Homo sapiens: one gene and its partner. The protein of the gene in region 1 purifies or fractionates together with the protein of each later gene. This does not show direct contact. Each region holds a gene or a part of one and is shown on either strand. Other genes may lie near its edges.

Evidence for each region.
Region 2: the proteins of SDHAF1 (region 1) and SDHA purify together in Homo sapiens (affinity purification with mass spectrometry; one large-scale study listed by BioGRID and IntAct). This does not show direct contact.

What each region holds. Positions count from the first base shown.
Region 1 is NC_000019.10:35,993,842-35,996,812, reverse strand, and holds SDHAF1 (succinate dehydrogenase assembly factor 1, mitochondrial), read right to left. Parts: upstream 1,626-2,971; 5' UTR 1,539-1,625; coding exon 1,191-1,538; 3' UTR 501-1,190; downstream 1-500.
Region 2 is NC_000005.10:238,820-242,319, reverse strand, and holds part of SDHA (succinate dehydrogenase [ubiquinone] flavoprotein subunit, mitochondrial), read right to left. Parts: intron 1,963-3,500; coding exon 1,844-1,962; intron 1-1,843. UniProt on the Homo sapiens protein: Flavoprotein (FP) subunit of succinate dehydrogenase (SDH) that is involved in complex II of the mitochondrial electron transport chain and is responsible for transferring electrons from succinate to ubiquinone (coenzyme Q).

The DNA of each region.
Region 1 (2,971 bases):
AGAATGTCTAGGGCAGGCCCATATGGGGACACCGGAGGGAGTATATCTGTGATCTATGGGGTTCATCTCCCCTCTCCTGCCCCAGGGCCTTGTCGTTCACTGTAGCTGAGGCTGGACCCTTCAGCCAGGTTTGAGAAATTTCCAGGTCTGAGACCCTCACTACTGCCTCAGGGGCTCCGAGCCAGTTCTCAGCTCCACCATTTCCTCTTCCACACAAAGATGTTAAATCACTTGCCCTCCATTAGGGAGCCAACTGGGGTATCTTTGGGGGTTAAGCCAGGATGAGCCCCCTCCACAGATCTGCCCAGGGGAGAAAACTATGCCGCTTCAATCAATGTGCCAGTCTACAGGGCTCCGGAAGGAGTCAGATCCCCACACCTATCACCTCCCAGATGGTCCCTTCCAGGTGTCTGTGTGCGTGTGTGTGTGGTGGCAGGGGGGCTGGGGGTGTTTCAAAAATCCTGAAATATATAAAAGCTTTAAGACCACCAACAGGGAAGTAGACATATCCCCAATTTTATTCCCTTTGTCCAACATTCCGAGAGGGAAGGGGCAAATGAGTCAATGTTGCCCCTCAAAACCATCAAGTAGGGGCCTTTGGGGGTCTTCAGTTGATCAACCAGGGTGATAGACCCCTACCCCTTCCTCATGGTCCTGGCTTGTCACAATTAATGGGGGAAAGTTTTCCAGAAGGGGATTCCGGGCTTCTCACCGCTCATCAGGGCACCTTCCCAAAACGTTCTCAGCAAAAAGTCTGCACTTCTCAGAGTTAAATACAGGAGAGGGGAGACTCCTTGAGGAGCCAGAAGTGGGTATGTTCTCAGGGGTCAAGAGAAGGGCGTCTCAGGCTCTCCCTGTCCACCGGGGGTCGTCCTGGCTCCCCGTACCTTCGGGCAAGTAGCTCTTGGCTTGACACTGTCCAGCCCGCCAGCGTCCCAGGCCGCCCCAAGCCCTCATGGGGGAGGAGCACCGACCTGTCTCCAAGCATCGGAAAAGGCGGGCCTCCCTTGCCGTCCATCACGGGGCTCTCTAGGCCCCCTGCGTCGCCAAGGAGGAGTCTCTGACATCCCCAATTCGTCAAGCTAGTCTCTTAAGACCTCTCACCTTAGGCGGGTTCCCCAGTCCCCCCATGCAGTCAGGCGAGCCTCCTGGCTCCACCACGCCATCGAGCGAGTTCGGCTCTTCGCCTGTCACCGTCCGTCGGGGCGGGTCTCCGGTGCCCCCGTGCTGTCGTGGGGGTTCCTTGGACTGTCGCCGTCGTCAGGCTGGCAACCCACGCCGCCAGGCTCCCCGGTCGGGGCCCGCGGGCGTACGAAGGCGCCCATGGCGGTGGCGTGGCCCGAGCGTAGCAGCTGCAGCTGGCGCCGCCCGCGGCGGTACAGGTACTCGATGCGCAGCACGTCGGACCGCGGCAGGCCCGCATGCTGCCGGAACTCTGCCCGCACTCGCGCCTCGGCGCCCGGCTTCCCACGCCCGGCGCGCAGCAGATCGCGGTACAGGCTCAGAACCTGCCTCTGCAGCCGGCTGTGCCGGCTCATGACCGCGGCTAAGCAGAGACGCTCAGCGAACGACCTGCGAACCGCGGAGCCGCCACACAGCCAGCAAAGGCCAAAGGGCAAAGCCACAGCCACTTCCGCCCAGCGCTTCCCTTGGCCTCCAACTCCCGCCTCCCGCCATCCGGCGCTGCCGCGTCTGACTGGCTGTCGTTGCAGTTACGTAACAGCCGGCTGGGAGAAGTGGGCGGAGTCGCTGGTCGCGGCCTCCCACGTAGGGGACGTGTGTTCTTGAGGGGACAGCAGTTCTGGGGATCCTGGCACCGCCTGGAGGGCGTTATGTGTTCGGACTCCTAGGTCTTGGGTTGGAGGGAACAGAGGGTCCTCACCTAACTCCTGCATTCTGGGAGAAGAGGAAGCTAGGGGTTTTTTTGTGTGTGACGGGGTCTCGCTGTCGCCCAGGCTGGAGTGCAGTGGCGCGATCTTGGCTCACTGCAGCCTCGAACTCCTGGGCCCAAGCGATCCTCCCACCTCAACTCCCCTAGTAGCTGGAACCACAGACGCGCGCAACCGCGCCCGCTATTTATTTATTTATTTATTTATTTATTTATTTATTTATTATTATTATTATTTGCAGAGATGGGTCTCCCTATGTTGCCCAGAATGGCTCGAACTCCTGGGCTCAAACGATTCTCAGCCTCCCAAAGTGTTGGGATTCCAGGCGTGAGCCACCGCGCCCGGCTACCGGTTCGGACTTTGGGTCCCAAGGGCACGGGGCACTGGGAGAGACGCCGGGCACAAGCGTGCTTTTGCCGTCAGTTACTGATTCAAACCATCTTGGGAAGCTCCGTGCGTTCCCTCGTCCGGGGCAGGTCTGTGTCTGGGGTCCCAGCCCTGGGCACGTGCAGAGGGACGAGACCCCGTAGGGAAATGGCTCTCGGCCGGTTGGACAGGCTTCTCGGGCCAGGGGAAGACAAGCAGAGAGAGTGTGGGCGCCAAGCCCCCAGAGGCAGCGTGTGGCTCTAGGAGCTGGGTTGGTCGCGCCCTCTGCGGGTGGGAGTCGGGGCAGTGGACAGCGGTGTTTGGGTCCTTACCGACTGTTAAAGCCCGGAGTCCGGGACACCCTGAACAGTCGACTAGACTGCAACCCCGTTGTCCTCCCAGGAGCTTTAGGTGGTAGGCCGCAATGCCGTTGTTGTCCCCGCGGGCCGCCTGGAGGTGTCCTCGTAGCGCTAGGGAGGCCCGCAAGGACACAGCATCCTCGGGCCCCACCAGCACCGGAGCTTGGGGGACCCCTCCACCCAGCGCGCAACCGCGGCTCTGCACACTTGGGCCGGCAACCAGCTGGGGGGTCCATTCCCCTTCAGAGAGGAGAAGCTGGTCAGGGGCGGGGATTAGGCTTGGAGTCTTGGAGTCAGGGGAGAATCACAAACCACTGTGAATCCTGCCTGGCAGGTGTATGTATCTATCAAAAATAC
Region 2 (3,500 bases), on another chromosome or scaffold:
GCCCTCATTCTGGTAAACCAACAGCCTTCTAGCGTGGGCGTCATGGCCATCAAGAGCATGTCACAGTGCTGCAGAGATTTTGTTTATGGTCAGTTTTGGGCCACATTTGGGGGCCTGTTCCCAAAAATTTACCTCATTTCTTTTTTTTGCTTCTTACTATGAATAGCCAGACTCAGCAGAAAAATCCCTTCCCCAACGGAACGCATTTCCACGAGCAGAGGAAACTCTGTTTGTTCAGTGCTGACTCCAGCATCTCGTGGAGCCTGGGATACAGCAGGCACCAAGACACACCATGTTTGGTGGGAATGCTTCTAGTATTCTCACTTTAAACTATCTCATGGATTTGCCATTTCTATATCCGAAGGCATGTTCCCATTCTCTAATGCAATGGTTCTTTCTTTCCCAGCTGGCCTCCAACCCTACAATAGTACTGCAGGGCATCACTCAGCCTTCTGTGCCTTAGTCACACTGTTCTTCTCACCATTCCACAAAGCCTCCCTGAAGCCCAGCTTCACTTGAAGACTGAAGGGCACAGGCCTCTGAAAATGTCAGCAGGGAACCTGTTCTCCTGTGTCTAACACCACATAGGTGTTAGACACCTATTTCAGAATAGGACTAAAGCAATGGACTTTTTAGAAAATACACAGAAATTCTTGCAAATAGTAGGCAAGAGATCTCATTCATGGACAAGAATCCTTGTTATTAGAGGAATTCAGTTTCTTAGACTGACCATGTATCAGGTTCTCCACGGCCCCATGGCTAATGGCTGCCATACTGGATGGCAAACACTCGGAACATTTCCATCATCACAGATGGTCCTACTGGACCGACTCCCAGCAGCACAGGCCACAGATCAGTTTCCACCTGCCGCCCACTCTCCCTCTCTTCCGAGTATATTTAGAGGCAGCAACAAGTCCAGCTTAAAGACATTTCCGAGCTGCTGGAAGCCAGGCATGATGACATGATCGATATCCGGGCCTGAGATGTAAGCACCAGTGTTGTGTTGAACTCCAGGAAACCTCTAAGAGAAAGCTGCCCTGCTGGGGACTGAGCTTCTCCAGCGGTCCTGCAGTTCCCTCTCCTCCACGCTGTGACTCATCCATGACAGCCAGCAATGGTCAGGTCACGGAGGTCACACCCAAGCACACACGAGTGAACCACAGAAGGCTGTCCTGGATGCCAAGCAGTCACTAATTCTGCCCTAGTCTGCCGACCTTCTATGTGGAAAAGAAGTGCACTTCTGTATAGTTCAGGCCTCCTGGTCTCTTTCATATTCTTGATACGGTGAGGAGTACGTCCTACCGCTGTTTACCTCCAGATACTGGTGCAGCCTTATGTATTTATCGCAGCACTAGTCACAACAGCAAAGTCATGGAATCAACCTAAGTGCCCATCAACGGATGACCAGATGAAGAAAATGTGGTACATATATACCATGAAATACTACTCGGCCATAAAAAAAGAACGCAATCATGTCTTCTGCAGCCACACGGATGGAACAGGAGGTCACTATCCTAAGTGAAGTGACTCAGAAGGTCAAGTGTCACACATTCTCACTTGGAAGTGGAAGCTGAATGGTGAGTACACATGGACACATGGAGTGGAGTAGCAGAGACTGGGAGCTCCAAAAAGCGGGAGGGGTGGGGTTGAACAATTACCTACTGGGTACAACACACACGACTTGTGTGACGGGTACATGAAAAGCCCAGACTCCACCACCTCCCAGTACATCCACACAAAACTGCACCTGCATCCCCCTAGATCTAGTTTTTAAAAAACAAAACCAGTGCAGGGCCAGGTATGCAGCCCTCCTGCTCACTCCAGAGCGAGTCCAGGCTCTTACCTTCTGCATGCTGAGTCGCAGTTCCGATGTTCTTATGCTTCCATCAGCAAATCTCAATTTGTCAAGATTCATGACAGATTCTTCCCCAGCGTTTGGTTTAATTGGAGGGACTTTATCTCCTAAAACAAAAAAAAGCTAGAATTTAACTTTTGAAAACCGTTTTAAAAAACCAAATGGATTTAGAATGACACACAAACATGTAGCACAGCCACTCAAGGAGCTTGGAAACTCTGTAAGTCTCCTGAGCTAACACACTGCCAGCCCACCCTACAGCTGAGGCCATCTGTTGAGTTGGGGCCAATTTTAAAGAACATAAAGGCAAAATTGTTGGCACACAGTAGATATCCATTAAGTGATCTTAGAGTGAATAAACTAGAAATCATCTCTAAAATTAAAAAATTAAATGTAGGCCGGGTGCGGTGGCTCACGCCTGTAATCCCAGCACTTTACGAGGCCAAGGTAGGTGGATCACTTGAGGTCAGGAATTCAAGAGCAGCCTGGCCAACATGGCAAAACCTCGTTTCACTAAAAACACAAAAATTATCTGGGTATGGTGGCACGCGTCTATAATCCCAGCTACTCGGGAGGCTGAGGCATGAGAACTGCTTGAACCCTAAAGGTGGAGGTTGCAGTGAGCCGAGATCGCGCCACTGCACTCCAGCCTGGGCAACAGAGCGAGACCCTGTCTTAAAAAAAAAAAAAATTAAATGTATACAAATTTATATATATTAAGTGTATATAAATGTCACTCCACTAAGGGAAAAAAGAGACACCTTCCAGATGGTGGTCCCAAGGGGCCGGCCACCCTTCACATCAGCGGGGGGAAGGTGGCTGCTGTGTGCTTGAAAGTCACCTGTTGATTTGGACTCTTATGTGCTCTCAACTATACTTCAAGATTAGCAATTTTTTTTTTTTTGAGATGGAATTTTGTTCTGTAGCCCAGGTTGGAGTGCAGTCAGTGGCACCATCTCGGCTCACTGCAACCTCCATCTCCGGGTTCAAGCAAGCCTCCTGCCTCAGCCTCCAGAGTAGCTGGGACTACAGGAATATGCCACCATACCTGGCTAATTTTTTGTATTTTCAGTAGAAATGGGTTTCACCATGTTGGCCAGTCTAGAACTCCTGACCTCAGGTGAGCCACCTGCCTTGGCTTCCCAAAGTGCTGGGATCACGTGTGAGCCACTGCGCACAGCCAAGATTTGCAACTCTTGTGTTTCTACGATGTCTTGAAAAAAGTTTTTAAGTTTTTTTTATAACGTTATATATATTTTCTTCAACAGGTAATACATGCAGGAGGTAGGATGTATGAAATGCAGGAGTCAAACAGGCCCCACCCCGCCCACCACCTCTCCACAGGACCAGGCTATGGGTCTCTTGAGGGTCTGCTCAAATGCTTCTAGGCTCGCTGGTGTTTCTCTTCCTTTTGATAATAATGCTTTAAAAATTGATCATTCAGTAAAATTGACTTTTTTCTTTAGGTGGACAGTTCTACAATTTACTTTTTCTTTTTTTTGAGACAGTGTCTCCTCCCTCTCTTGCCCAGGCTGGAGTACAGTGGTGTGATCTTGGCTCACTGCAACCTCTGCCTTCCAGGCTCCAGCAATCCTCCAACCTCAGCCTCCCAAGTAGCTGGGACTACATAGGTGTGAGCCACCAT